Homo sapiens: one gene and its partners. The protein of the gene in region 6 purifies or fractionates together with the protein of the main gene of each other region. This does not show direct contact. Each region holds a gene or a part of one and is shown on either strand. Other genes may lie near its edges. The genes, in order: NFE2L1, KDM5A, SPICE1, BPTF, CHD9, PHF12 and LIN28A.

Region 1 (3,800 bases), about 19 Mb from region 6:
CGCCCAGGCAGCAGCACGGGCGGGGCACCCTCCTCAGGCCCCTCGGAGCTAGCAAGGGGCCACCCTTCCAGCCTGGTGTGCTCCCTGAAAGCCAAGAGCTCCTTGCAGCCCCCTGTCCGGCTTCCCGGCACCGGCTGCCCTGGGGCTCATCTCGCAGACCATGACCCGCCTGGACCGCAGCTCTCACAGTGGTGGGGGCCATGCCAAAGGCAGCCGGCCCCTTAACTCTTTGCTGGCTGGTCACCGGGTGGCCCAGCCCGCCTCTGCTCCTGGGTCCAGGGCTTCTGTTCAGGTTGGTGTATGTGGGGAGACTAAAGTAGTACGTCTGGGAGGTCTTAGGGTCAGGGGGGGTTAATGGGAGAAGAATACCGACTTAGAGGTAGGGAGGAGGGTCTGATCTAAGGAAATTGCTTTCTGGAAAGTGTATGTCTGCATTTTAACCCCTGGATGGAAGGCAACACTTTAGGGTTTCTTCAGGCTTGTAGGGAGGGCTCGACTACAGGGGGGTGCCATGTATAGGAAGCCCAAATAGCTCTATTTATTGGGGTTATATGCTGTTAGTGGGGGTGGCAGTTGGTGCAGCAACTGTTCACGAGCCACCAGGGTAGAGCGGGAGGGAAGCATTTTTGGTGCCCAAGGTGGCAGTTGTAGCTGAGCAGTGATGGGGTTTATGTCCTTGAGGGGGTTGACTGATGGGGATTTGGTGAGTCCTGGGGTATGGTGAGGGAATGAGAGCACTGGTGTAGGGGACACAGTGAGGCTGGCCCGAGCAGGGGGTGGGGTGCACCCCTGGGGATCATCTGACTGCCTGAGCCTCCCTGGAATGGAGGCAGCAGCTAGGATCAGCTGAGAGGGAATTCTGGCGGGGATGAGTCTTGAGGTGAGCCTGGGCTTGAGGAGTTGTGGGTGTTCAGCCTTACTCTTGCTGCCAGCTGGGGAATGGGGAATGGCTATAGGAAGGGCTGGAGACAGCATGGCGTTGTCATTGGTTGCATCAGGTGGTTGGAAATGCAGGGATTTTCCTCTCTAGCCCACCCCACCCCTTTATGCAAATGAAATGGTACCACAGGCTGATGCAAGCCTGGCCACTGCTAAGTAATTCTGCATGACAATTCGCTCTTGCTTGCCATGGCCAGCTTCCTCCAAACCAAGTTTTAAGGGGTCCAATCCCCAAAGCTAGAGGTGTCTCCTGATGTTCCCCTTCTTTCTTATGTAGGGGGGAGGCGGCCCTGCCTTTTGTCTGGGTGTGTCTTGGTCCAGATCCTAATCCTTTGCACCCTTATGGTGATAGTCACACTAATGGTTTTGCTAGTGGCTCTTTTTTTTTGTGGGAAGGGGATAGTGTCTGGAAGTAGATGAATGAACACTTGCTGGTGCAGGGACCAGGGGGTAAAGGCTGGCAGGTGAAGAGCTGGGAGGGGCCCCACCCAGGACTAACTGGGGTGACACTAGGAGGGAACTCTGAGGGGCAGGACAAGGAAGGGACCTTGGGATCTTAGAGCTAAAGTCATGTGATCTGTCTTTCAGGACATAGATCTGATTGACATCCTTTGGCGACAGGATATTGATCTGGGGGCTGGGCGTGAGGTTTTTGACTATAGTCACCGCCAGAAGGAGCAGGATGTGGAGAAGGAGCTGCGAGATGGAGGCGAGCAGGACACCTGGGCAGGCGAGGGCGCGGAAGCTCTGGCACGGAACCTGCTAGTGGATGGAGAGACTGGGGAGAGCTTCCCTGCACAGGTACCATCGCCCCTGCTCACTGGGCTCTCTTCTTGTCCCTACTACCCTGACACAAACCAGGCTGGAGTTCTTCCAGAAACTTCCTTTAGAGAAGACAGGTGGTGTGTGGGGTGGACCTGAATTTCTGTTTTGGGTTGGGGTCTGTAAGTCACAGTGGCTGAGCCTTGGAAGGGGGGAGTGGAAAGCAGCAGATGCAGAATGGCCAGGCCGTGGCAACAGACAGTGCAAGGGAGGCAGAGCATGTAGCATCTTCCTGCTTGCTTCAGGACTCTTTCACTCTCTTCTGTTGTTTCTGGGAGTTTGGGACTCGGGGCCAGCCATTAGCCTGGGAATGGGAGGGAGACTGCAGGGCTTCAGCCATTCTGGGAAAGAAGCTTCAGCCCCAGGCAGCCAAGGCCCAGGTCAATCAGACTTACAGTTCCTGTTGCCACAGGTGCCTAGTGGGGAGGACCAGACGGCCCTGTCCCTGGAAGAGTGCCTTAGGCTGCTGGAAGCCACCTGCCCCTTTGGGGAGAATGCTGAGGTGAGCAGGACTCCAGTGAGAGTCCACCAAGTGAGCAGGGCAGCCTGTACCTGGTGTGTCCCTCCATGGCTGAGGGGCCAGCTGTTGGTTCTGGCCTTATTCTGGCTGCTGGGGGTAAATGCAGAGGAAGGAAGAACAGAAACAGGTCCAGGTGGTAATCTCTGGGAGGAAAGCACAAGGTTTTTCCTTCCCCCTTGTTAAAGCCTCTGTGTTTTGCCCTAGTTTCCAGCAGACATTTCCAGCATAACAGAAGCAGTGCCTAGTGAGAGTGAGCCCCCTGCTCTTCAAAACAACCTCTTGTCTCCTCTTCTGACCGGGACAGAGTCACCATTTGATTTGGAACAGCAGTGGCAAGATCTCATGTCCATCATGGAAATGCAGGTAGGATTGTCGGAACCGGGCACAAACCTATTGGATTTTGCACAGATTGTCTTAGCACTCAGTTGCTTTTCCATCTCCAAGGAGAGAAAGTGTAATACTTTCCCTGAATCATAGAGAAGTGGGGACAATGAGAAGAAACCTGTCCAGGTGTGTCCTTGGGGCAATGGGAGCTGGAGACAGGTAGGGTTTGGGTTAAATAAAACTCAGGACTCAGCCTTCCAAATCAGGGCCTGCCTCCTGGGTGTGCCTTCTTCCTTTCCTTCAGGCAGATAGGCACTTGGCTGAATGCTTCCAAGGTTGTGCGTTAATAATAGCTGACATTCACATGGTGCTTCACAGCCATCGTTCGCTCACTTGGCCCTCACAGTCATCTAGTCAGCCTTTATCTCAAAGGTGAGGAAATTGAAGCTCAGAGGTTAAATGATGTGCCCATCGTCACACAGCAAGTGGTGCAGCTAGGTTTTCTGACTTAAGTCTGGGTGTTCTTTTCACTGTGCTGATTTTGCAGTAACAAGGTAGTGTTTTCTTCCTCTCCCTCCAAGATGGGGGAGTCTGGCCAAACATGAGGAAAAGCTGATCAGTCCTATATTAGGGTGGAGCCTACATGGAAGAACCCATCTCTGCCAGGCCTGGTGGACGAAGCTGGGTCAGGAGCTGACACTGTGGGCTTTGGTTTATAGTATTTTGCCTTTACACCCATGCAGCTGTGCCTCTGTTGGGTGCCTGCAGTGTGTGAGCCCCAGGGGAGGGAGTCAGTTCCTAGTGAACAGTGGTGCTCTTCTCCCCTCCCAGGCCATGGAAGTGAACACATCAGCAAGTGAAATCCTGTACAGTGCCCCTCCTGGAGACCCACTGAGCACCAACTACAGCCTTGCCCCCAACACTCCCATCAATCAGAATGTCAGCCTGCATCAGGCGTCCCTGGGGGGCTGCAGCCAGGACTTCTTACTCTTCAGCCCCGAGGTGGAAAGCCTGCCTGTGGCCAGTAGCTCCACGCTGCTCCCGTTGGCCCCCAGCAATTCTACCAGCCTCAACTCCACCTTCGGCTCCACCAACCTGACAGGGCTCTTCTTTCCACCCCAGCTCAATGGCACAGCCAATGACACAGCAGGCCCAGAGCTGCCTGACCCTTTGGGGGGTCTGTTAGATGAAGCTA
Region 2 (4,121 bases), on a different chromosome or scaffold from region 6:
ACGCGGGAGGCTGAGGCGGGAGAATGTCATGAACCCAGGAGGCGGAGCTTAGAGTGAGCCAAAATCGTGCTGCTGCACTCCAGCCTGGGTGACAGAGTGAGACTCCATCTCAAAAAAAAAAAAAAAAAACTAATTATTCATATAGAAGTCTATTAAATTACAGGCATTCCAAGTAATACTTTTTATTATCAAAAATAATAGGGAGAAAGATGAAGTGATTTAATCAAAACAGGAAACCATCATGCTGATGACTTAATGACTCAGAAGACTGAAAATTTGCTTCCCATCAAAAAGCAATGGGAATCATAGTATTTTCAAATCATATATAAAAAAAAAACTTAATAGATGCCAACAAACTGTCAGCCAAAAATAATCTTTTTTTTAAAAAAGGGCACACCTAACCTTAAAACATCTCAACTCTCAGTATTTTCTGCAGTTTTCAGCCCAAGCCTCTTGCTAGAATAAAATGTCATGTTAATGAAATAAATAGTCACCCAATGATAAAGGTCAGAATAAATTACCTTTGTGAAGAAGTATTGACTGGAAAGGAGATGAAACAACCCACTAGAGTGCTATAAAAATGTTATATATCTTGATCTGCGTGATGGCTACAAAACAGGTGTACACATATGAAAATTTATTGAACTGTACGCTTGAAATTTGTGCATTACACTGTAAGTTACACCTCAATGTAAAAGAAAAAAGTTAACGTGAGAAGCAGCAATCTCACAATGACATTTAGGGAACAAAGTATTATAAACTAAAATAACTACAAATCAAAGTTTGTCTGCCTTTTAGCTTTAAATCTCAGTTTTGCAAACATTCTCACAGGTTGGGGAAAGAGATGTCCATGAGGACTTAAAAAAACCCACAAAGACAAGATTCCAATAAACCGTCAGATAAGCACACTTAACCTTTAATCATAACATATTTTCAATAAGTTTTCTGAATATTTAAACAAAGTGTACTTTATTAGTAGTATGAACCTTAAAAGGAAATCAGCTTCTCAAGATGGAGTTAAACACTCTGGATGACCGTTATAAGGAGAATTGTGAACAACTAAGTATTCAGACTAGGTTACCTCTAAAAGCCCCTTCCCTATTTTGAAATCCTATGACTTTAGAAAACCAGAAAAGTGCAGCCGGGCACGGTGGCTTGCACCTGTAATCCCACCATTTTGGGAGGCCAAGATGGGAGATCACTTGAGATCAGGAGTTCGTGACTAGCTTGGCCAACATGACGAAACCCCGTCTCTACTAAAAATACAAACATTAGCCAGGCGTGGTGGTGTGCGCCTGTAGTCCCAGCTGCTTCTGAGGCTGAGTGAGGGGAATCGCTTGAACCCAGGAGGTGGGAGGTTGCAGTGAGCCGAGATCACGCCTCTAGCCTGGGTGATGGGGGAGACTCCGTCTCCAAAAAAAAAAAAAAAATGCAATTTAACTTACCATCAGATTAAACCTAAGGTTTACCTTTTAAATGGAAAATCACTGACAGAGAAAGTTTCAATAGATTACTACTCATACTATTAATACTTACTCTAGCAAATTCCTTAGGGTATTTATGAAAATAAAATAGAGATAAAGATTGGCCGGGCACAGTGGCTCACACCTGTAATCCCTACACTTTGGGAGGCCAAGGTGGGCAGATCATTTCAGGTCAGGAGTTCAAGGCCAGCCTGGCCAACATGGTAAAAACCCCATCTTTACTAAAAATATAAAAATTAGCTGGGTGTGGTGGCACACACCTTTAATCCCAGTCCCAGCTACTCAGAAGGCTGAGGCATGAGAATCGGTTGAACCTGGGAGATGGAGGTAGCAGTGAGCCAAGATTGTGCCACTGCACTCCAGTCTGGGCAAAAGAGTGAGACTCTGTCTAAAAAAAAAAAGTAGAAAGAGCTTCATTAAAGAGTACTACAACATATTGCTATTAATGATAAAATAATTTTTGAAAAAAAAATTTTTTTTTCAGACACAGTTTCACTCTTGTTGCCCAGGCTGGAGTGCAGTGGTACTATCTCAACTCACTGCAACCTCTGCCTCCCGGTTTCAAGTGATTTCCTACCTCAGCCTCCTGAGCAGATGGAATTACAGGTGCCCACCACCACACCTGGCTAATTTTTTGCATAATTAGTAGAGATAGGTTTTATTTTATTTTTTTTTTTTAGACGGAGTTGTGCCGCTCTTATTGCCCAGGCTGAAGTGCAATGGCGTGATCTCAGCTCACCACAACCTCCACCTCCCGGGTTCAAGCAATTCTCCTGCCTCGGCCTCCCAAGTAGCTGAGATTACAGGCATGTGCCACCACGTCCGGCTAATTTTGTATTTTTAGTAGAGACGAGGTTTCTCCATGTTGGTTGGGTTGGTCTCGAACTCCCGACCTCAAGTGATCCTCCTGCCTCAGCCTCCCAAAGTGCTGGGATTACAGGCATGAGCCACCGTGCCCGGCTGAGACAGGTTTTCATCATGTTGGCCAGGCTGGTCTCAAAAACTCCTGACCTCAGGTGATCCATCCGCCTCAGCCTTCCAAAGTGCTGGGATTACAGGCATGAGCCACAGTGCCGAGCCAATTTTTGAAATTTTTTTTGTATTTTATTCATACTACAGTCAAACACATTCAGAATCTTAAACAGCATCATACAGCAAAACTTAGTAGGTAAGTTTTGATTGAATAAAAATTTCAAAAAAGCATTCTTAAGATGAATTTTTATCCTAATAGTTCCCTATAAGAAGAAACCCACCACCCAAATTTAGCATAATTTGTTCTTTAGTACCATAGGTTTTCATATAACTATACTAGACAATTCTTGACACAGTGCTTACTTACTAACATCATTACCTGACTGATTAAAAAAAGTCTCAAGCTGTATTTTAGCGTAAGACCGTACTTCCCAAATTTTTTAGTAAGAGAATTTTGACCTGACACTAATTTTAAAATGTATCATAAAAGATAATTTAAATATGGTTACTCTGTTTTTTTGGAAACAGGGTCTTGCTCTGTCACTCAAGCTGGAATGCAGTGGTGTGATGACAGCTCACCGCAGTCTTGACCTCCTGGGCTCAAGCAATCCTCCTGCCTCAGCCTCTTGATTAGCTGGGACTCCAGGAGTCCACCACCATGCCAGGATTATTTATTTTTTAATTTTTTGTAGAGATGGAGTCTCACTATGTTGCCTAGCCTGGTCTCGAACTCCTAGGTTCAAGCAATCCTTCCACCTCAGCCTCCCAAAGTGCTGGGATTATAGGTATGAGCCACCACATGCCACGAATTATTCTCATGTTTTTCCTTACAAGTGAAATCTTCCTGGCCACGCATGGTGGCTCACGCCTGTAATCCCAACACTCTGGGAGGCTGAGGCGGGTGGATCATCTGAGGTCAGGAGTTCGAGTCCAGCCTAACCAACATGGAGAAACCCTGTCTCTACTAACAATACAAAATTAGCCAGGTGTGGTGGCAGGCACCTGTAATCCCAGGTATTTGGGAGGCCAAGGCAGGAGAATCACTTGAACCCGGGAGGCTGAGGCAGAAGAATCACTTGAACCCGGGAGGTGGAGGCTGCAGTGAGCCGAGATGGCACCACTGCACTCCAGCCTGGGCAACAAGGGCGTGACTCCATTTCAAAAAAAAAAAAAAGTGAAATCTTCTAAAAGTAACTGCAATTTAAATAAGAATAAATTTTTATTTCAAAATAGTATATAAATTATAAGATATGAAAGGCCACAAGAAGAAGTTGTTTTACAAAATTCCCAGATAATTAAGCAATAATAAATTTGTATTATTGTAGTAACAAAACATATTTTAGCCGGGCGCGGTGGCTCACGCCTGTAATCTATAATCCCAGCACTTTGGGAGATCAAGGTGAGCGGATCACGAGGTCAGAAGTTCGAGACCAGCCTGACTAAGATAGTGAAACCCCATCTCTACTAAAAAATACAAAATTAGCCTGGTGTGTTGGCACATGCCTGTAATCCCAGCTACTCGGGAGGCTGAGGAAGGAGAATTGCTTGACCCTGGGAGGCAGAGGTTGCAGTGAGCCAAGATCAGGCCATTGCACTCCAGCCTGGACACAAGAGCAAAACTCCATCTCAAAAAAAAGAGAAAAAAACATATCTCAAGGTTATTAT
Region 3 (4,121 bases), on a different chromosome or scaffold from region 6:
TTTTTAGTAGAGACGGGGTTTCACCATGTTGGTCAGGCTAGTCTTGAATTCCTGACCTCGTGATCTGCCCGCCTCAGCCTCCCAAAGTGCTGGAATTACAGGCATGAGCCACTGCGCCCAGCCTGTTTTGTTTTTTTGAGATGGAGTCTCACTCTGTTGCTCAGGCTGGAGCGCAGTGACGCAATCTTGGCTCCCTGCAACCGCCACCTCCTGGGTTCAAGCGATTCTGCTGCCTCAGCCTCCCAAGTAGCTGGGATTACAGGTGCGTACTACCACACCTGGTGAATTTTTGTATTTTTTGTAGAGGCGGGGTTTCGCCATGTTGGCCAGGCTGGTCTCGAACTCCTGACCACAAGTGATCTGTTTGCCTCGGCCTCCCAAAGTGCTGGAATTACAGGCATGAGCCACTGCATCTGGCCAGAAATAATGTTTTAAAGGATTATTAAAGCCAGACTTTAATATACATATTAATCATCTGGGGATCTTGCTGAAATGTGGTTTCTGATTGAGTAGGTCTAGGGTAGGACCTGTGCATTTCTAATAAGTTCCCAAGTGATGCCAGTGCTGCTAGTCTGAGGACCACGCTTTGAGTAGCAAAGGTCTGCATTTTATAGTGCAGGAGTTTTGTAAGTTAAATAAACTTTGTGGGCTAACCTGGTAACTTAAACCTTCATTTCGTTGTTTCTGGGGGAGATAGGGAGTCTAAATTCCAGCTAGGGAGGGTTTATAAAAGAGCTCCAAATGCTGGTTCCAGTGATGGTAGACACTTTCTTTTACCCCTTCTAGAGCCAAGGCCGCTCCTGTCAAGTTTCTGATAGGAGGAGCTGGGCACTGTCACTGGGGATTAGAAGCTCGTGAGGTGGCTGTGTTCATAAGGGCTTTAACAACAGTGGGTTGGAGGGCTTTGGTGAGGAAGGTTAGGGTGAGGTGAGTCATAGGGTAAGGGCCATCTCTGTCAGCACTGGGTCATGGGGAATAAGGACAATATGGGTATTGAATCATAGAAGTAGACAGAAGGAACTGGCAGAAGAGGAGCCAGAAAGGAATATTGCTAGTAGGGAGCAGCCAGCCATTGGTAGTGGTGTATATAAGTAAATATCAACTGCCTCAATTTTGAGTCACTGGGAGGCATTTATATATTTGTAGTTTTGAAGATTATTCATAACAGGCAACTCTTGGTTTAAAAAAGACAGCAGAGTCTAATGTTTTGCTTGCCTCCTTTTCTAATTAGTATGTAGATCAAGCTGGAAGGGACTATCTAATATTTCTGTCTTCACTACCCTCTTTTGTTTTAATTGGAAATACAAAATGATCTTTAATTCATACTGATTTTCCTATTTATTTATTTATTTATTACTAATAGACATAAGCTAAAAATCAGTGATTTTTATTAGGGATTATTTTTTTCCAAAGAGAAATGAAATAACTAGGACTGAAATAATGACATAATTAGGAATAATGAAATAATTAGGAATGACATAAGCACATTTGGGGGGGGAATTTTCAAATTAAATTTATGCTATATTTTTTGGGCGGCTATTTTTTACCCTACCTCTCATATTTCTTTCCAATCACCAACTATTCTTGAATCAGATACCTTAGGCCAAAAGTGGCTTGGGGAGGCTGACATATGGTTAGAAGGAGTGACAAGATTCCCAGAATCTTTGCCAAATGGTGCATATTTGAAGCCTGTAATTATAGAAACTTCTGTTTCCAAGATAGCAGATCCTCTTTTGTAATCTGTCAAACTGCAGATCTGTCTTCAAAGATGTGTGGCATTTACTTAGAGACCAGCTCACTTGGAGCAGTCTCTTTGCTCATGTGATCTTTTGTGCAGCTCTGCAGATACTAAGAGATACAGAAAAGCTTTTCCCAGAATATATGCTTAAAGGGACTGTAAATTCTATTGTGTGCTCACTATTCACATTTATATATAATAAGGGCTATGAATACTAACTTGCTGGCCATTAGTAAGTCAAAATTGTGTGAGATCGAGGTGGGTGGATCACGAGGTCAGGAGATGGAGACCATCCTGGCTAACACGGTGAAACCCCGTCTCTGCTAAAAATACAAAAAATTAGCTGGGCGTGGTGGCAGGTGCCTGTAGTCCCAGCTACTCGGGAGACTGAGGCAGGAGAATGGCGTGAACCCGGGAGGCAGATGTTGCAGTGAGCCGAGATAGCGCCACTGCACTCCAGCCTGGGCAACAGAGTGAGACTCTGCCTAAAAAAAAAAAAAAAATCGTGGGAGAGATTTTTCAGTATTCAGTATTCAATTTGTACTTTTTTTTTTTTTCTCCCAAAGACTTTTCCAGTAGCACAGTCTCTAACACCAGGTAGTATGGAGGAACGGATTGCAGAATTGAATCGACAAAGTATGGAGGCTCGTGGAAAACTACTGCAGTTGATAGAGCAGCAGAAACTTGTTGGTTTGAATCTTTCTCCACCAATGTCACCTGTTCAGTTACCTCTCAGAGCATGGACTGGTTGGTCACAAATTCATGATTTAAAAACTAGAAATATGAAGGTTTTCAGTTTTCTTGATTTTGCAAGTTTATATTAAGCCAAAAGAAGTATCAGAGCATATATTTTGGTGCCTTCAATTTTGCACAGAAAGAAATAGCCCTAACTCACAGGATAAGTGACAGAAATGGGATTAGAAGGCAGATCTCCTGATTATTTCTATCCTATGATGCCTATAGTTAATCTTTGGTGTCTGAGTTCCTAAATTATCGTACATCTAAATGGGATTCATTATAGTGTACGGTTCACTTAGGTCATATGCTGCAACTAAGCATGAAATATCTGAATGTTCATTTAGAATTTCATCAGCAATGAATTACAAGTTATTATTCTGTAAAACACTTAAAACATTTTCACTCAATTAAATTTTTTGTTACATTTAGGAATGTGAAAAGCTAGAGGGGATTCTGAATAATAAAATAGTAACTGAAAAAATTGTCATAGTATTCACATTCAAAAAGATACTGATGAAACGAAGTATGTATCAAGTTGCTTTTTATCAGAAATTGCATTATTAAGGCCCTCAAGGGACAGCTACATGAAGAGTACTGAGAGATTGATTTTGGCCCAGTAAAAGAGAAGGCTCTAATTGTCAGGAATAGAAAAAGCTCCATGTACCAGTAATTGATGTGTTCTCTGAGATGTTCAAACATTGGTGTTTGAAGGGGACTCATATGTCTTATTTCTGGTTGAAGTAGGTTACCTTTAAGATACCTTCCAATAAGACTTTTCCCCTCAGAAATTATTTCCTTTTTGAAATACAGACCCAGAAAGCAGACTCTTTTGGAAATTGCTGGAAAAAGATGGTAATGCATTTCCCCAGGGCTCTCTGTTTATTCTAGGCTTCCTCAAATGACAGTTTTGTCTACTGTTCTTCATAGTTATGAAGCCTAGAGACAACTTCTGATTAGAATAAATAAATCAATTAACTATATATGAACATGTACTATGTGCGAACATGTACTATGTGCGAACATGTACTATGTGCGAACATGTACTATGTGCCTGCCATGTGTGGGCTTGAATACTCTAGCATTTGAGTAGGGGAGCAGGCAACAAACAAATCAATATTTGGGATAATATCAGTTAGTGCTAAGTGCAAGGAAGAAAAATAAAGCAGATCAGCCTTAAGAATAATTTTGTGTTTAAATATACATCTTCCATTTCAGTATTTGTGTATGGTTAAAATATGCTTTTATTTATGTTATGTAATTTAGTCCTCAACATACTTTAAGAGGAGACAGGGCTAATATTATACCTATTTGATGAATAAGTAAACTGAGGTACAAAGAGGTTATGTGATTTATCAAGTTACAAAGCAAGTTGTGGATTTGCAACTGCGTTCTTTCCTGTCCAGTGATTTATCTCTAAAGTATTCTTTTTATAAGTAAAATTCTTATATTTGTTTAAAAAAAAGCTGCTGTGGACTATAATGATAAAAATAAAAATAAACCATATATCATGAAAAACCTCTTTTGTTTTCTAGGGTAACTGAGGAATATTTTGTAAAATTAAATAGGGTTTTATTACCTTGTAAAGCCAGGAAGTCACACAAAGTCAGGAGCCTCTGTGAAACTGCCTGTGATGAACATTAAGTCT
Region 4 (4,121 bases), about 39 Mb from region 6:
TAGCTTAATTTTACCAGGACTGGGCCAGGCATGGTGGCTCACGCCTGTAATCCCAGCACTTTGGGAGGCTGAGGTGGGCGGATCACAAGGTCAGGAAATCAAGACCATCCTGGCTACCATGGTGAAACCCCATCTCTACTAAAATTACAAAAAATTAGCCGGGCATGGTGGCAGGTGCCTGTAGTCCCAGCTACTTGGGAGGCTGAGGCAAGAGAATGGCGTGAACCCGGGAGGCAGAGCTCACAGTGAGCCGAAATCGCGCCACCGCACTCCAGCCTGGGCGACAGAGCGAGACTCCGTCTCAAAAAAAAAAAAAAAAAAAATTACCAGGACTGTGGCAGATTTTCTAATCACATGTTAACTTCCTCTTCACCCTACCACCAAGGACAACAAATAATGGAAAGTCATCTCACACATGACCCCAAATCTTATTGCAGAAATGCAATACCATCACATACACAAATAATGCTGGGCCCAGAGTCTCCACAAAGGAGGACTTCACTCAGCCAGAGTGCTGGGGCTACCCAAGCTGTGCAGGATTTAGGGCAAATAAAAGGCTAGAGAAAAAGAGATGTTAGGTAAATTCCCCCTGGTCTAACAGAGGCAGACTGACTACAATGAGTCCAGGAGAACTTTCTGCAATGATATGAAATGCCCCAAATGCTCTACATTTGTGTGGTGCAATACATGTGGCTATAGAGCACTTGAAATGAACATATAACAGCTAGTGCCACAGGAGAAACTAACTTTTCATTTTACTTAAATTTTTTTTTTAAGAGATGGGTTCTCACTCTGTCACCCAGGCTGGAGTGTGGTGGCATGGTCCATAGCTGACTAGGGCCTCTAACTCCTGGGCTCAAGCAATCCTCCCACCTCAGCCTCCCAATTAGGTAGGACTACAGGCATGCCAACCTCTGCCAAACTATTTTAATTCTTTTGTAAAGACAGTGTCTTACTATGTTGCTCAGGCTAGTCTTCAACTGCTGCCTTAAGTGATCTTCCCACCTCAGCCTCCCAAAGTATTGGGACTACAGGTATGAGCCACCACGCTTGGCCTGCCTAGTTTTAATTAATTTAACTCTCCACATGTGGCTAGTGGCTACCATACTGGACAGTATAGAGCGTGAAAAGAATCCACAGGCTTTCTTTGACTCATCATTCAGTTCCACAATTACTTGTGCTGCCTACTGCATTCAAGAGATTGAACCAGGCACTACAGAGACTGAATGAGACTGTCCCTGCCCAAAGTAGGTTGTAATTAAAGAAGGGCCAGATATTAAAAGCCCATTTCAGCTCCATGTCTTAACAGATAAAGATAGAGATAAAGGGGTTAAATAATTAAGAGGATAAAATAATCCTTCCTAAAGGTTTATGGACTTTAGGAAGGAGCCTCAAAATACATGAATATAAAGCCTCAAAATACATGAAGATTGCTAGAACTTCAAGGAGAAACAGACAAATCCTTCACAATAGCTGCAGACTTCAAGACTTCTCTCAGTAATCAACAGAACAAGCAGAAAGTCAGACAGATCTTAGTAACATTATCAACAAACTTGACCTAATTGACATTTATGCAATACTCCACTCAACAAGAGCAGAATACAAAATTCTTTTCAAGTACATATGGAACATTCACTTAGACTGACAAAATTTTGGGGTGCAAAACAAACCTCTAAAAATGTTTTATAAAATTAAAGTCATACAAAGTATACTCTCTGAACAAAATGAAATTAAATTAGAAATCAGTAACAGAAGGATAGCTAAAAAATTCCCAAATATTTGGAAACTAAAACACTTAATGCACATGGTCCTGGAGGTTATACGGGTGGGAAACACAGGAACTTAGCCCCACCTGGCGGTAAAGGGAATGGTGATCAGAGAAGGCAGGCTGGAGAAGGTGATGGATGGATGACTAGGAGTTAGGTGTGTGAGAACTACAAAGAAATCAGTATTACTAGATCCATTCGAGATGAAGAGAAGAAATAAGGAGTGAATAAGGAAAAGAGAAATAAGGGAGATTCAGAAGTCAGTTCATCCTTGAATCCTTTTCTCCCACTCACCACATCCCAGCCTAACCAATCTATCACTAAGGATTCATTCTAACTCCTGAATTACTTTCTTCCAGGCACGGTGGCTCACACCTGTAATCCCAGCACTTTGGGAGGCCAAGGCGGGTGGATCACTTGAGGTCAGAAGTTCAAGACAAGCAAGGCCAACATGGTGAAACCCTCTTCTAGTAAAAATACAAAAATTAGCCAGGCATGGTGGCACACACCTGTAGTCCCAGCTACTCAGGAGGCTGAGACAGGAGAATCACTTGAACCCAGAAGGCAGAGGTTGCAGTGAGCCAAGATCATGCCACTGCACTCCAGCCTGGGCGACAAGAGACTCTGTCTCAAAAAAAAAAAAAAGAAAGAAATTAAAACTGAATTTGCAATAATACAGCAAATAATCCTAGTTATATACCCAAGAGAAATGAAAACATACGTACAGATAAAAACATGTACACGAATGTGCTCAGCAGCATTATTCCTAATGGCCAAAAAGTGGAAACAGTTCAGATGTCCATGAACTTAAGAAATGGATAAGCAAAACATGGTCTCTGGACACAGAGATGTGTGCCTGTAATCCTAGCTACTCTGGAGGCTGGAAGGCTGAGGCAGGAAGATTGCCTGAGTCCAGGAGTTTGAGGTCAGCCTGGGCAACACTGCAAGACCCTGTCTCCATAAAAAAAAAAAAAAGGCTGTATAGCCATACAATGAAGTGTTATTCAAATATAGTACTGATACATGTTAAGATATGCATAACGCTTGAAAACATTAGGCTAAATGATGGAAGACATATATTATATGATTCCACTTTATAAGAAATGTCCATAAGAGGCAAATCAGGCGGGGCGCAGTGGCTCACGCCTGTAATCCCAGCACTTTGGGAGGCTGAGGCGAGTGGATTACAAGATCAGGAGTTCGAGACCGGCCTGGCCAACATAGTAAAACCCTGTCTCTACTAAAAAAAAAAAAAAATACAAAAAATTAGCCAGGCACAGTGGCAGGTGCCTGTAATCCCAGCTACTTGGGAGGCTGAGGCAGGAGAATCGCTTAAACCCGGGAGGTGGAGGTTGCAGTGAGCTGAGATCCCGCCACTCCACTCCAGCCCAGGTGACAGAGCGAGACTCTGCCTCAAAAAAAAAAAAAAAAAAAAAAGAGGCGAATCAACAGGGAATCAAAGTAGATTAGTGGCTGCCAGGGATGAGCAGGAGGGAGGTGAAGAACAGGGAGTGATGCTGACGGTGCGGGCTTCTTTTGCGGGGGTATAAAAACGTGCTGGAATTAGGTAGTGTTAATGGTTGCACAACTCTGTCAATATACTAAAAAAACCACTAAATTATATACTTTACAAGGGTACATTTTACAGTATATAAATTATATCTCCATACAGCTGTTACCTTTTAAAAACTGAATTTTCATAAATATTGCTTGAAAATCATTCAGCAATTCAGAAGATGTCCAATAAATTTAGCTATTACTGTCACTATTTTTAAAATGTGACAATCACAAAATAATAGTTGAATATAACTTACTATCTAGAAAAACATAAAAATTTTAGATATATACCAGCAGACAAAACAATTAAAACATTATAATTATATTTACGTGCATTTTAATTATTTCTATACGGTCACCTTCGATCTTTTAAAGTGCATTTTAATGTATAAGTGGTTTTTTTTTTTTAAATTAAGAAACATGCTGCCTCCTGAGGCTTATCATTTTAAAAAACCAAAAGCATGAAAAAAATTAGAGGCCGGGTACGGCAGCTCACCCCTGTAATCCCAGCACTTTGGGAGGCTGAGGCAGGCGGATCACAAGGTCAGGAGTTTGAGACCAGCCTGGCCAATATGGTGAAACCCTGTCTCTACTAAAAATACAAAAATTAGACGGGCGTGGTGGCAGGCGCCTGTAGTCCCCTACTCGGGAGGCTGAGGCAGGAGAATCGCTTGAACCCAGGAGGTGGAGGTTGCAGTGAACCGAGATTATGCCACTGCACTCCAGCCTGGGTGACAGAGTGAGACTCTGTCTCATAAATAAATAAATAAAATTAGAATAATCAGTGTCAGCATTAAG
Region 5 (4,628 bases), on a different chromosome or scaffold from region 6:
ACTTCTTTGGTCTTCTAGGACAAGTGATGGTGTGAAACATGTAAGGGTTATGGAAGTACCCATGAAAAAATTTTTTTGGACCTTATATTTTCTAGAATTATACTACAATCTTATGTTTTACAGTATGGAGGAAGGCTAAAGACCTCTTTACTCACTTATTCTGTGATAAAATGAAAAGTGGAAGAGCTGTTTGAAGCTACCACTTATATAAAATTAGGTTATTGCTATTATAATTGATTATTTAATATCAGTACAGAATAAATTTACAAATAATTACCTATTTTTCATGGTTATTTGTATGATAAGCTAATAACTCTTTATTTTATTTTCATGTAGGGATTATTAATGAATATATATTTCTTCCAGGGATTTCTTCCAGAAAGCATGTATGAACGTATTCTCACTGGTCCCGTTGTGAGAGAGGAAGTAAGCAGGCGGGGGAGACGGCCTAAAAGTGGAATTGCAAAGGCCACAGCAGCAGCAGCTGCTGCATCTGCCACCAGTGTTTCAGGCAATCCTTTGTTAGCCAATGGACTACTTCCAGGTGTGGATCTCACAACTCTTCAGGCCTTACAACAAAACCTACAAAACTTGCAGTCACTGCAAGTAACTGCTGGGTTGATGGGAATGCCTACCGGCCTTCCTTCTGGAGGAGAAGCTAAAAACATGGCTGCTATGTTCCCCATGCTGCTGTCAGGAATGGCTGGATTACCAAATCTGTTGGGCATGGGAGGACTCCTGACAAAGCCTACGGAATCTGGGACAGAAGACAAAAAGGGAAGTGACTCTAAGGAGTCAGAAGGAAAAACAGAAAGGACAGAGAGCCAAAGTTCAGAGAATGGTGGAGAAAACTCTGTGTCAAGTTCTCCTTCCACATCCTCTACTGCTGCATTAAATACAGCTGCAGCTGCCAACCCATTAGCTCTTAACCCACTATTACTATCTAATATACTTTATCCAGGGATGCTTCTCACTCCAGGCCTTAATCTTCATATTCCAACTTTGTCCCAGTCCAATACTTTTGATGTACAAAACAAAAACAGTGACTTAGGCTCGTCTAAGTCTGTAGAAGTAAAAGAAGAAGATTCCAGAATTAAAGATCAGGAAGACAAAGGAGGAACTGAACCAAGTCCTCTCAATGAAAACAGCACAGATGAGGGTTCAGAGAAAGCTGATGCTTCATCTGGATCTGATAGTACATCGTCGTCATCTGAGGATTCAGATTCTAGTAATGAAGACTGATTCCCAGACTCTGCACTTAAAATATGAACTGATTTTGGATTTTTTCTTTAATAATTAATTGTAAATACCCCAGTGTTGAGTGCATCAATAACTTACTGACCGAACATTTCAGTTATTTGTTTAGAAGTGCAAACTGCTTTCAGAGACTTTTTGCATGTAATATTTCTTAAGATTCATAAGTTTCTGAACTCGTATGTACTATCAAATACATAAAGGTGTAAAATTACAACAAAAGGCATTATAATTTTGTTGGGGGTTAATTTTATGAAAATTATGCTCAATAAGAGTTGTATATTTAATATATTTGCAGTGAACACAGAATACTTTATGCATATTACTGATTTAATTTGAATATAGTTTTACAGCCTCCTTGACACCTATAATTTACAGATCAAAACTCAGCAATAATTTGGGCAGCTAATGAATGTCATGAAAGCTGTAGAATCTACATCACCATCCATTGCTTTAATTACATGAAAATGCTCTAGTGTTGTGATGCACTGCTGATGTTTCCAATTCAGGTACAAGTATGTTTTAAAGAAGAAATAAGTTTCCCAATCAGCCAATTTAACTGGCTACCTGTTACCTCAGCTGAGTTAGTTTAGGAAGTTTACATTCGTTTCTAATTCTATACTTGTTTTCAGGGGTTTTTTAAACACATCCTATATATCATGTCAATCTGGCAAGAAATATGACTTGCTTTTTGCTGAGCTTAATTCAGATATCAGTAAAATTAAGTCATAAAATAATCATGTGTCATGTGACTTTGGCACCCTATAGACATACTTAGTTTTAACTTTTCAAAGTTTGGCCTCCTATTAGAAATAATCATGTCTCAGATGAGTAATGTCTGTTTCCAGGGTTCAGAAAAGGCAAACTCATGAAATGCCACTGAAAAGAACTTTCAACACAGCATACTTCATGTAAAAGAAATTGTTTGTTTGCTTTCTTTGTGTAGATTTCTATTTGTGTTTTATGTCATGGAAATATTCCAGAATTAACAGATAATAGTGGTAAAGTAATATGCAGATAGTCTAAATTCATTTTGAGTTTCTAGGTGTAAGCAGACTAAATGTTGCCCAGAATCAGTGTTGGGTTATCAGTTTATATTAAATATACTGAGTTGCCCGTTTTGAAAATGCACTTTGAATAATCTCAAAAAGATGTACAAGTTATACCTGTAAACCACAAAAGTGAAGCCTGAGGCTTCTGTTCAATTTCATAGACTCCTTTACCATGTAAAATTTGTCTGATATTTGATTTGTGATACAATTTCTCCTGCTAAAGCTGCTATTATTCTGACAAGGTAGAGGTCCAGGTTCACCTTTATATATATTTAAAACAATTAGTACTGAATTGGACATAAAAATATTGACATTCTAAGGAGAGATATATGTTAGCATTTTTCTGGTACTCAAATAAGTTAGTAGTAAAGTCTGCAAGGGCATAAATTTAGGGGGAAAAAGTGTCCCAGTTCTCTCCTACAGAAAAAATACTTTCAGTATGTTTTGATAAAACTGTTGCTTTGTCATGAGTTAGTCAATTGTATCAGGTTTTCCAAGACCTTTACCAGTAAATTATGTTTCTGTATGTAAAATAACCCCTTATTAGAGAGACAGTGTTATATGTATTTACAAAATTATATAAGTTCCATTGGGATTGTATTGATTTTGTATTTTCCCAAAATAGTACTTTGAATTGATAGTCCTTTATGCAATGTCTTAGCAATAGTCTCTATAATGCCCATCCAGGAGAAGTGGGTAGTAATTCTTCATCATGAAAATGATATATTACATATTTAGTATCTTCCCTTTGCAGTATTGCACTTTTGTTTAACTAGAATACACCTATGAGATAGCCAAAGTTTCAAACACAGTTATCTTAGTTTACCGGTGGAGTATTTCAACACCAACCACATTTCCCTTCCTCCCTCTAATTCTACCCACATGATCTTTATTCCTTCCTTTCGCCAATTAAAAAAAAAAAAAAGGAAAAAAAATCTGTAGATCTTGTCACTAAAATCTAATTTATATCAAATTTATGAGAGAAAGTATTTTCCTAATTATGGTCAAATAAATTTGGTTAACATCCTAGTGATTCTCTTTCTATATAATAAGGCAATTACAGTTTTCAAAGCATTAAGTCTAACATAACTTTAAACATTCTCTTAGGTTTCAAGACACTTCTATTTAATATTCATTGGGGAAAAGTTGTCCAGCTATCAGCTAAGAAAACACATGCAAATATGGTTGTGTAAAGTTAAGGGTTATAAGGAAAAAAAAATCAGTAGAATTACATAATACTAAAGTTGCAGTTGAAAGAATATCCAAGTATGTGTTGGTAGTTACTAAAAGAATTATAGCTGTTATTGCCTTGTATTTATAGCCCTTGTTTCAGGTTTTATGATTCAAGTCTTAGTCCAATCTTTCTTTTGGACATTTGCAATATTTACCAGTTGTGTTTTGTGTAGTCTGAATTTGCTTTCTGTAGTTGAGCAAACGTCTTAAAAAGTCATTTGTAATTTATTAAATTACTTTCTATGATGTTCTATAGAGCAAATGGAAGTTTAATTATTTTTTATTAAACATATTCTTTGACTACCCATGATGTCAGCCTCTGTACATGAGAATACTTTTTAAAATTGAATTTTATATAGAATTTATCTTATTCCAGTTATGAGAGACACCATAGTTGTAAATCTTTAAAAGGAAAATATACCGTGGAAGAATTTTTAAAACAAAAATTGGCTATAATTTTATCCACAGTATCTTAAATGCTGTCAATTTTTCATTTTGATTTAATTTTATTAATATTGTTCATTGTGGATATTGGTGACTGCAAAAAAAGCAAAAGCTGCTTCTTGGGCATTCAAATTGTTAAACCCCAATTTTGCAGCCCAATCTCAACTTCATGCTGAACATTAAGTATTATTTTCTTAAGTTTTTGGACTTTTAAAAAACTCAGAAATACTCAGAGATATTCCTCACCTCTTTAAGAAGTCCATTTTGGAAATCAATAATTATTTTTTTCCCTTAGTCTTAAGAGTGTTTCCTAACTCATTGCCATGGGTAGTGTTCTTCGTAAACATTGAAGAAAATAGTTTTTCCTCTAATTACACAACTAAAACAGTGGAGTCTCATACTCATTTAACTTGAACACATTCAACTACACTTTCATGTTTAGAAAACCTTTTTTTCATTTTTGTACAACATAACATATAAACACAAACCAACTGCTTCATCTAGTACTCACCCAGAGGAACAGTAGTCTGTTCCAGTGTTGGAGGAAGAATTGCCTATGTTGGACATTTTTGAGAAGAGATATGAGGTATAAAATGATGTATTCTGTAATTTGTGAGCTCTGTGAGAGAAAAGAGTGATTTTTTT
Region 6 (4,121 bases):
CTCTTGTGCTGGTCCTTTGGGGAAACTGGGGTTGGGAAGGGATATGATGATGGTTTGGCTGACCTGGTAGTGCAGTGGTACAAGTCAGTTCATTGGGCAACTGAAATTGGGTGGGGTTCCGCTCCATGGCGGCAGCAATCAGCAGCTCAAAGGGCCGCCTCAGCTGGGGCTGCACATAGTCTGGCTCCGCTGCTACTGGTTCCTCATCCACGTCAATGATGTCTTCGTCGACATCATTCTGCTCAGAGGTGGGAGTCTCTGTGCTGGCGCTGGATGTGGGTGTGCCAGGCCTGCTGGCTCTCCTTTCCAGGATCCGGGCATGGGCAATGGCCTTTAGTTCAGTTTTGCTGGCCGATCTGTCCAACAAGTCAGTGTCACTGCTGGGGGATGTAGTCCGTTTGCCAGATTTGTCCACCAGTCCATTGACATGACCCAGCTCCTTTTTCTGCTCTCGTTTCTGTGCAAATGAACAGGTGGGCCCATCATGAAAAGTACCATGAAACAAAGAGATGGGTGCTACAAAGTCCTGGTAGACCACTAATCAAAACTGTAAAAGGCCTTCACATATCACAGACTCATCTACCTGGTCACTTGGAACACTGGTCTGTTAAAGTTGACACAACTCTAACTGAACTAAAGCTGACAAAACTGTTGCATCAGAGAATCACCAAAAAGCATGGTAAGTTAGGAATAACTATACAAAATATATATCATTAACATTAACTCATTGTATGACATACAACATCTATAAAGTATAGGGTAAAGGGCTAAAAAGGTAACACAGTGAGAATAAATTTAGTGAGACCAATAGTAAAAATCAATGGGGCAGGCACGGTGGCTCACGTCTGTAATCCCAGCACTTTGGGAGGCCGAGGCAGGCAGATCACCTGAGGTCAGGAGTTCAAGACCAGCCTGGCCAACATGGTGAAACCCCATCTCTACTAAAAACACAAAAATTAGCTGGGTGTGGTGGCATGTGCCTGTAATCCCAGCTACTCAGGAGGCTGAGGCAGGAGAATCGCTTGAACCTGGGAGGCAAAGATTGCAGTGAACTGAGATTGCGCCATTGCACTCCAGCTTGGGCGACAGAGCAAGATTCCATCTCAAAAAAAAAAAAAAAAAAAATCAGTGAGATCACTATAGAGCCTTCTGACCTCCTGAATGGTTTTAAAAATAAAAACTTTGCTCAAAATAAGTGACACTTCTTAGAAAGTGGGGAAATGGAAAAAGATTAAGTGTACTCAGTAGGACTGGATATCTGATAGTACATTTTCCTCCAGGACTCCAAATAGAGTGGTCAAATGAAGGTTTAACACTGATCTCCAGGTAGGAGACCTGTGATCTTGTCCTATTTCTGCCACGGATCCCCTCTGACCTTGTGGTGACTCAGGCTGGTGGGCAGGAATTTCTTCATCTGTAAAATGAGACAGAAAAATCTTTCTCCTCCTCCTCTCAGGGATATGGTGGAGGGAGATAAAAAGGGTCATATATACGAAAGGGATAATTTGGAGTTGGAGTAGGACCTAGTCTTCCACTACGAATCATGATAGGGCCTGAATGTCAGGAGCTGATGAAGGCCAGAGGATGTATTATTTCAATCCACTTCAGTGTAAATACAAGAGGCCAAAGGGGAGTAGTGCTGGTGATGGTGGAAAAGGCAGACTTGGCACTGGTAGGCAGAGGTCCATGTGAAAGGTAAGAGAGGCATCTCAGGAGAAGTGCCATGTTAGAAAAGGGCATACTGTAATCCCCAACAAGTAGCTCTCCTTCTAGAAAACTGATGAAGAGGTAACAGAGGTTTGGAATGAGAGAATTTGGTTCAAACATTGGTTCTGTCAATACCTTTGAGTCCTTGGGAAAGTTAATCTACATTTTTGAGCCTCCGTTTCTTCCTTTCTAAAATGGAAACCTACGGCCAGCATTCGGTATCCATCTATGGCTGGATGGATAGATAATGGGATAACGTAATTAAAACACCTGGCACACGATGGGCACTAACATAATATTTCCTTTTCTCCACCGTCTTTACCCCTTTTCCTTCAGCTCCCCTAAACCTTTTCAGGTCCAGCTTTTTTGAGTGGCAAGTTTGAGAGGGCTCCTGGCTGGCAGGTGCCTCTAACAGGCCCTGCTCTAACCTAATTAGGGATGCACAGGAAAGGATCTTGGAAGGTGGAGAGGCTGGAAGACAGCCTGGTTTATGGAGAAATTTAACTACAGCTGTGGTTAGGTGGTTGACCTGGCTTTGGCTTGCTTTTAAATATGAACCCTTATGCACGTATTTGAAAAATAATGTCTGCTTGTTTACTTTCTTTCTTAAAGGCTGAAACTGTTACACACATAAACCACAATCTTAATCATCTCATCCTGTTTCTGCAACCAAGGAAGTCATCATTCATTGTGACATCATGTTCGGGGACCAGGCAAATAGAGGTGAGGTCACAACATAGGAAAGTTGCTTGGTGTATAATTAGTGTGGGGAGCACAGGGGGGTGGATTACAATGCACAGACAAATTCTAATCCATAGCCTGTAATTTGAGGGTTGGGTCAATCATAATTTGGGTGCAAGCACACCTACTTCCTTTTTTAATAAGGGAGAATTTAGCTCTTGTTACCCACAAGAGTTCTCAAAGTAGAAAATAATAAACCATGTTCTTGAAGCCAGTACTGAATTATCAAAGCTGAAGGAAGGGAAGCTAAAGAAAGATTAGGCAACTTGGGGTACAAATGCGTTCAAAATCCTCTCCGTCAGTATGCCAAGTCTCTGGATACCAGTGACTTATTTGCCCTGGGGTGAGAGAAAACTCCATTTTCCATCAAGCTGGAGAAGCAGCCTTTGTTTTTCAGCCATGGATAAGGCCACTTATTAGGAGGACAACAAGAAGGTAAGACTACTCCTGTCACTAGTGACTAAACATGGCTCAGTAAGTTAACACACCTCTTCTGCCCATTTCAGCAGCCCATGTTTGGATTTTTAGGCCCTACTGGATTCCAAACAGTCACCATGGGAAGAGTGGGGTGATTCCAGGGCTGGAAGAGACAAGAAGAAGGGACAAGAATGCCTTCAGGGCTAGGCCGTCTTAGCTCTAGCATATCAGTGCTCTGGATCAGGCTTTCTGGACAGTCTTCAGAAAGCAGCATTATTACCTTTCGGCGAACAGTGCACCGGTGACACATCCACTCTCCAGGAGGCAACATTTCTTCACTCAGTGGAGGGTTACTGTGGGGAACAGACAAGGGCAAGACTAAATAACTAGCCCTTTGAGGCAGTAGGAAAAGCCTAGCTAGGTTTGCATGTTCCTAAACTCCTATTGTGGCCAGTCCTGCAGGACTGCTAGGGTTGTCTCCTCCAAAATGCCTAAGTCAGCATCACTCATAATAACCTAAGGAGTGACCATCCCTTCCCACACCTTAGAGAGAGAAGCCAAATCCAGAGCTATTAACACTGGGTTTGTAGGGAAAGGTATAATAAAATAACTGAGAGGTCCTCCACACTGTTTTCTTAAAGCCTGTTAGTGTAGAGCCAAGCTTTTCTAACTGCTGTTCAAAGCCCTGTCACATGGTCCCACCGTTCCATCTTCCCAGACCCCTTCAGGTGCTCTTCCCACTATTCAAATGGAAGACTTCCTATTTCTTCCTCTAGAATACTCTTCCTTTAGAAAGCTATGCCTGTCAAAACTCTATTCATCCTTTCATACCTGCCTCAATCAGCTGTGATGGATTAAAGACAGCTGCAAATTATCTGCTCTGCCTCCCATCCACAGGTAGTCCCTTTCCCTCCTCTTGAATTGTGCTTGTCTTATGACTTGCTTTGACCACAGAATGCAGCAGAGGTGACAATGTTGCAACTTCCAAAGCTTGGCCTTAAGAGATCTGCAGATTCTATTTTTTAAGAAATATGCTTGGAAAGTTCCATCTCAGAGCCCTGCTGTCATGCTATGAGAGAGGACATGGAGGAGACAAGGTATTCCAATCAACAGTTTTGGGCTGGGCGTGGTGGCTCACACCTGGAATCCCAGCACTTTGGGAGGCCGAGGCTGGTGGATCACTCGAGATCAGGAGTTCAAGACCAGCCTGGCCAACATGGCGAAACCCCATCTCTACTAAAAATATAAAAATTAGC
Region 7 (4,121 bases), on a different chromosome or scaffold from region 6:
TTCATTTAAGTTCCAGTTTGGAATATTACCCCCCAGCCACCAGCATAAAATACGAATGCTACTTACTCATGTTCCCTTGAGCCAGGACTAGGTAAGTGCACAGTGATCCCTTTTGCTTCTCCATTTTCTATGACGACTACTCCTTGTTGACATATTTGACACTGTTGTTTTACTATAATAGATGAAGCTGTAATGAAGTCTATTCTGGGTAGGGTCTGAGATGCTGTCACCTCCGCTAATGTCAAGTTGGTGGTGCAGTAAGTGGCATGATAGAATGAGCTCTGAGCTTTAAATCAGGAACTCTGGGTTCATCTGACCCTGGCTTTGCTACAGAACTAGCTGTATCAACAACTACTTTTTTTTTTTTTCTTGATGGCTGCTGGCTGTTTGCTAACTGCTTTATAAATATCAGTGTCCTTAAATTTTGGTACAAACGTGCAGTGTTCTAATAGGATTATTCCATACATATTGTTCTAAATCTTGCTTTTTGTTTTTTCTTTTAACAATATTATTTGGTGATCTTTCTCAGCTGAATGATTAAAAATCTGCCTCCTGTTTCATTAATTCATTCAAAAATGTGCTAGGCATTATTTCAGGTACCAAAATGTGGCTGTGAACAAACCAAAGACTTTACGTTGTTCTTAATGGCTGCGTGGTATTCATTATTATAGATGTACCATATTTATTCAACCATTCCCCTTCAAATACACCAGTAGGTTATTTCCAATTTTTTTAAAGCAACAATGAGATACTGAGTATATGTGTCGTGCTAAGACTTCCTACTGATAATCTACTTATATTATGTTGTGTAATTCTTTTTTCTTAGTGATTTATGGTATATTTTTGTAGTTTTACCAGTCTGATTATCTGTCTTAACTTTTCAGTATTTTTCTTAACAATGAGGTGTTTAAATCCTCTGAAATGTATTTTGCATATGTATCATACAAAGTCTGTAGGAATATGACTTCCTTTCCCAATGGATTATTAATTTTTATAGCAGCATTTATTGAATTATTTTTCTTACCTATTGATTTCTCCATATATTCTCAGATCTCTGTGATTTTCCATTTTAATCCTCTGATCCATCTGCTTGGGTTATACTGTCTTTCGGTAACATTATTTTGATATAATTTCAAACTTTAAAAAGGCTGCAAGAACAATACCCAACACTCCCACATAACCTCTACCCAGATTCATTGACTCTTAACATTTTGCCCCATTTGCTTTATCATTCTCTATCTTGCTACAGATAGTTTTTTTTTTGAAACCATAAGTTGGAGACAGTAAGCACTTTTATCTCTAAATATTTCAGTGCGTATTTCCCAAGAATGGGAATATTTATCTTTTTTTTTTTTTTCTGAGACAGGGTCTCACTCTGTCACCCAGCCTGGAGCACAGTTGTGTGATCTCTGCTCACTGCAACCTCTGCCTCCTGGGCTCAAGGGATCCTCCCACCTCAGCCTCCCCAGTAGTTGGGACTACAGGTGTGTACCACTGTGCCTGGCTCATTTTTGTATTATTTTGTAGAGATGGGTTTTTGCCATATTGCCCAAGCTGGTCTCGAATTCCTGGGCTCAAGCAATCCGCCCATCTTGGCCTCCCAAAGTGCTGGGGATTATAGGCATCAGCCACTGTGCCTGGCTGGGAATATCAATCTTACATCGTTTCAGTACACTAATCATAATCAGGAAATTAAACACTGGTACATTTATCTATATACCATATGCAAATTTTGTCAATTGTCCTATTTTTTTTTTTTTTTTCCTGTTTCAAGATCCAATCTGGAATCTTGGATTTCATTGAACTGTTCAGTTCTTCAGGCTTTGTCTTTTTATGACCTTGACATTTTTGAAGTCCTGTTTTATAGGAATGTCCCTCAGTTTGGGTTTGTCTGATGTTCCCTCAAGGTTAGATTCAGGATGTGCATTTTTAAAGTCATAAGTCCTTAGTGCATCATATTAGAAGATATGTGTGTCCCATTGTAGGCAAAGCTAAACTCAAAGAACTTGACTAGGGTATTATCTGCCAGTTTTCTCCACTGTAAACTTGCTGTTTTTCCCTTTGTAGTTGCTACACTGCTGATTATATCCAATTTAAATTGTAATATCTGGTATTCTTGGCAATTTATATTTTCCCATAGCCTTTAGAATCACTCAATCTTCCAATCCAAGATCGTGGTATGTTTTTGCATTTTTTCCTTTAATATATTTGAGTTTTTTCTTCATATAGGCTTTTTACCTTGTTAAATGTATTCTGAGGGTTTTGGTGTTTTTGTTTGTTTCTGAGAGAGGGTCTTACTCTGTCGCCCAGGCTGGAATGCAGTGGCATAATCTTGGCTCACTACAACCTCCGCCTCATGGGCTCAAGTGATGCTCCCACCTCTGCTGGGATTACAGGGGTGAGCCAGACAGAGTCTCGCTCCATCACCCAGGCTGGAGTACAGTGGTGCCATCTCTGCAACCTCTGCCTCCCGGGTTCAAACAATTGCCTCAGCCTCTCGAGTAGCTGAGATTACAGGTCTGCGCACCATACCCAGCTAATTTTTGTGTTTTTTGTAGAAATGGCATTTCGTCACGTAGGCCAGGCTGGTGTTGAACTCCTGGATTCATGTGATCTGCCCACCTCAGCCTCCCCAAAGTGCTGGGATTACAGACAGGCATGAGCCACTGTGCCTGGCCTATTCTGTTTGTTTGGTTTTTTAACATGTTTTGCAGCCATTATTATGATTTCCTTTTTTTTCTTTTTCTTTTTTTTTTTTTTTTTTTTTTTGTTGTTGTTGTTGCCCAGGCTAGAGTAGAATGGCGCAATCTTGGCTCACCGCAACCTCCGCCTCCCGGGTTCAAGTGATTCTCCTACCTCAGCCTCCCAAGTAGCTGGGATTATAGATGCCCACCACCACGCCTGGCTAATTTTGTATTTTTAGTAGTAGAGACAGGGTTTCTCCATGTTGGTCAGGCTGGTCTCAAACTCCTGACCTCAGGTGATATGCCCGCCTCGGCTTCCCAAAGTGCTGGGATTACAGGCATGAGCCATTGCGCACGGCCCATTAGTATTATTTCTTAAATCATTGAGCATCTTGAGTTTGTTTTTTTGTTTGTTGGTTTGTTTGTTTTGCGACGGAGTCTTGCTCTGTCACCCAGGCTGGAGTACAGTGGCGCGATCTCAGCTCACTGCAAGCTCTGCCTCCCAGGTTCATGCCATTCTCCTGCCTCAGCCTCCGGAGTAGCTGGGACTACAGGCACCCGCCACCACGCCTGGCTAATTTTTTGTATTTTTAGTAGAGACGGGGTTTCACCGTGTTAGCCAGGATGGTCTCGATCTCCTGACCTCGTGATCCCCTGCCTTTGCCTCCCAAAGTGCTGGGATTACAGGCGTGAGGCAGCGCACCCGGCCTTTTTTTTTTTCTTTTTTAAATAAGGCATATCATATTGCTTTGATTATAAAAATACCACTTGATTTTGTATTTTTTCCAGTATTCTACTTATTTGGTCTTTTGATGATGGTATAAATACTAAGTGAGGCATTATGTGAAAAATGAATATTTCAGTGCTTCATAGCGTGACATTTTATTTTTATTTTATTTATTTATTTCTTTGAGATGGAGTCTTGCTCTGTCAACCAGGCTAGAGTACAGTGGCATGATGGCTCACTGAAACCTCTGCCTCCGGGGTTCAAGCAACTCTCCTGCCCCAACTGCCCAAGTAGCTGGGATTACAGGCGCCCACCACCACACCCGGCTAATTTTTGTATTTTTAGTAGAGACAGGGTTTCACCATGTTGGCCAGGCTGGTCTCGAACTCTGGACCTCGTGATCCACCTGCTTCAGCCTCCCAAAGTGCTGGGGTTAAAGGCGTAAGCCACCGTGTGTGGCTGAGCCACCATGCCCAGCTATTTTTACTTTTATTTTATTTATTTATTTTTGAGACGAAGTCTTGCTGTGTTGCCCAGGCTGGAGTGCAAAGGCGCCATCTTGGCTCACTGCAACCTCTATAGTGTGACACTTTAAATTTCGTAATTTTATATTTGTTGATTTCTTCCAAATGCTTGTATTTACAAATTTTTCTGTTTGTTGTTGTTTGTTTGTTTGTTTTTGAGACAAAGTCTCACTCTGTCGCCCAGGC

The links.
Region 1: the proteins of PHF12 (region 6) and NFE2L1 purify together in Homo sapiens (affinity purification with mass spectrometry, with the first as the bait; one large-scale study listed by BioGRID). This does not show direct contact.
Region 2: the proteins of PHF12 (region 6) and KDM5A purify together in Homo sapiens (affinity purification with mass spectrometry; 3 studies listed by BioGRID and IntAct, with this or other methods). This does not show direct contact.
Region 3: the proteins of PHF12 (region 6) and SPICE1 purify together in Homo sapiens (affinity purification with mass spectrometry; one large-scale study listed by BioGRID and IntAct). This does not show direct contact.
Region 4: the proteins of PHF12 (region 6) and BPTF purify together in Homo sapiens (affinity purification with mass spectrometry, with the first as the bait; one large-scale study listed by BioGRID). This does not show direct contact.
Region 5: the proteins of PHF12 (region 6) and CHD9 purify together in Homo sapiens (affinity purification with mass spectrometry, with the first as the bait; one large-scale study listed by BioGRID). This does not show direct contact.
Region 7: the proteins of PHF12 (region 6) and LIN28A purify together in Homo sapiens (co-immunoprecipitation; one large-scale study listed by IntAct). This does not show direct contact.

What each region holds. Positions count from the first base shown.
Region 1 is NC_000017.11:48,054,859-48,058,658, forward strand, and holds part of NFE2L1 (endoplasmic reticulum membrane sensor NFE2L1), read left to right. Parts: intron 1-1,527; coding exon 1,528-1,740; intron 1,741-2,173; coding exon 2,174-2,263; intron 2,264-2,485; coding exon 2,486-2,644; intron 2,645-3,436; coding exon 3,437-3,800.
Region 2 is NC_000012.12:378,848-382,968, forward strand, and holds part of KDM5A (lysine-specific demethylase 5A), read right to left. Parts: intron 1-4,121. UniProt on the Homo sapiens protein: Histone demethylase that specifically demethylates 'Lys-4' of histone H3, thereby playing a central role in histone code. Does not demethylate histone H3 'Lys-9', H3 'Lys-27', H3 'Lys-36', H3 'Lys-79' or H4 'Lys-20'.
Region 3 is NC_000003.12:113,448,700-113,452,820, reverse strand, and holds part of SPICE1 (spindle and centriole-associated protein 1), read left to right. Parts: intron 1-2,304; coding exon 2,305-2,485; intron 2,486-4,121.
Region 4 is NC_000017.11:67,831,866-67,835,986, reverse strand, and holds part of BPTF (nucleosome-remodeling factor subunit BPTF), read right to left. Parts: intron 1-4,121. UniProt on the Homo sapiens protein: Regulatory subunit of the ATP-dependent NURF-1 and NURF-5 ISWI chromatin remodeling complexes, which form ordered nucleosome arrays on chromatin and facilitate access to DNA during DNA-templated processes such as DNA replication, transcription, and repair.
Region 5 is NC_000016.10:53,323,654-53,328,281, forward strand, and holds the end of CHD9 (chromodomain-helicase-DNA-binding protein 9), read left to right. Parts: intron 1-366; coding exon 367-1,242; 3' UTR 1,243-3,844; downstream 3,845-4,628. UniProt on the Homo sapiens protein: Probable ATP-dependent chromatin-remodeling factor. Acts as a transcriptional coactivator for PPARA and possibly other nuclear receptors. Has DNA-dependent ATPase activity and binds to A/T-rich DNA.
Region 6 is NC_000017.11:28,923,846-28,927,966, forward strand, and holds part of PHF12 (PHD finger protein 12), read right to left. Parts: intron 3,219-4,121; coding exon 3,146-3,218; intron 2,884-3,145; exon of another isoform or gene 2,430-2,883; intron 458-2,429; coding exon 64-457; intron 1-63.
Region 7 is NC_000001.11:26,420,668-26,424,788, forward strand, and holds part of LIN28A (protein lin-28 homolog A), read left to right. Parts: intron 1-4,121. UniProt on the Homo sapiens protein: RNA-binding protein that inhibits processing of pre-let-7 miRNAs and regulates translation of mRNAs that control developmental timing, pluripotency and metabolism.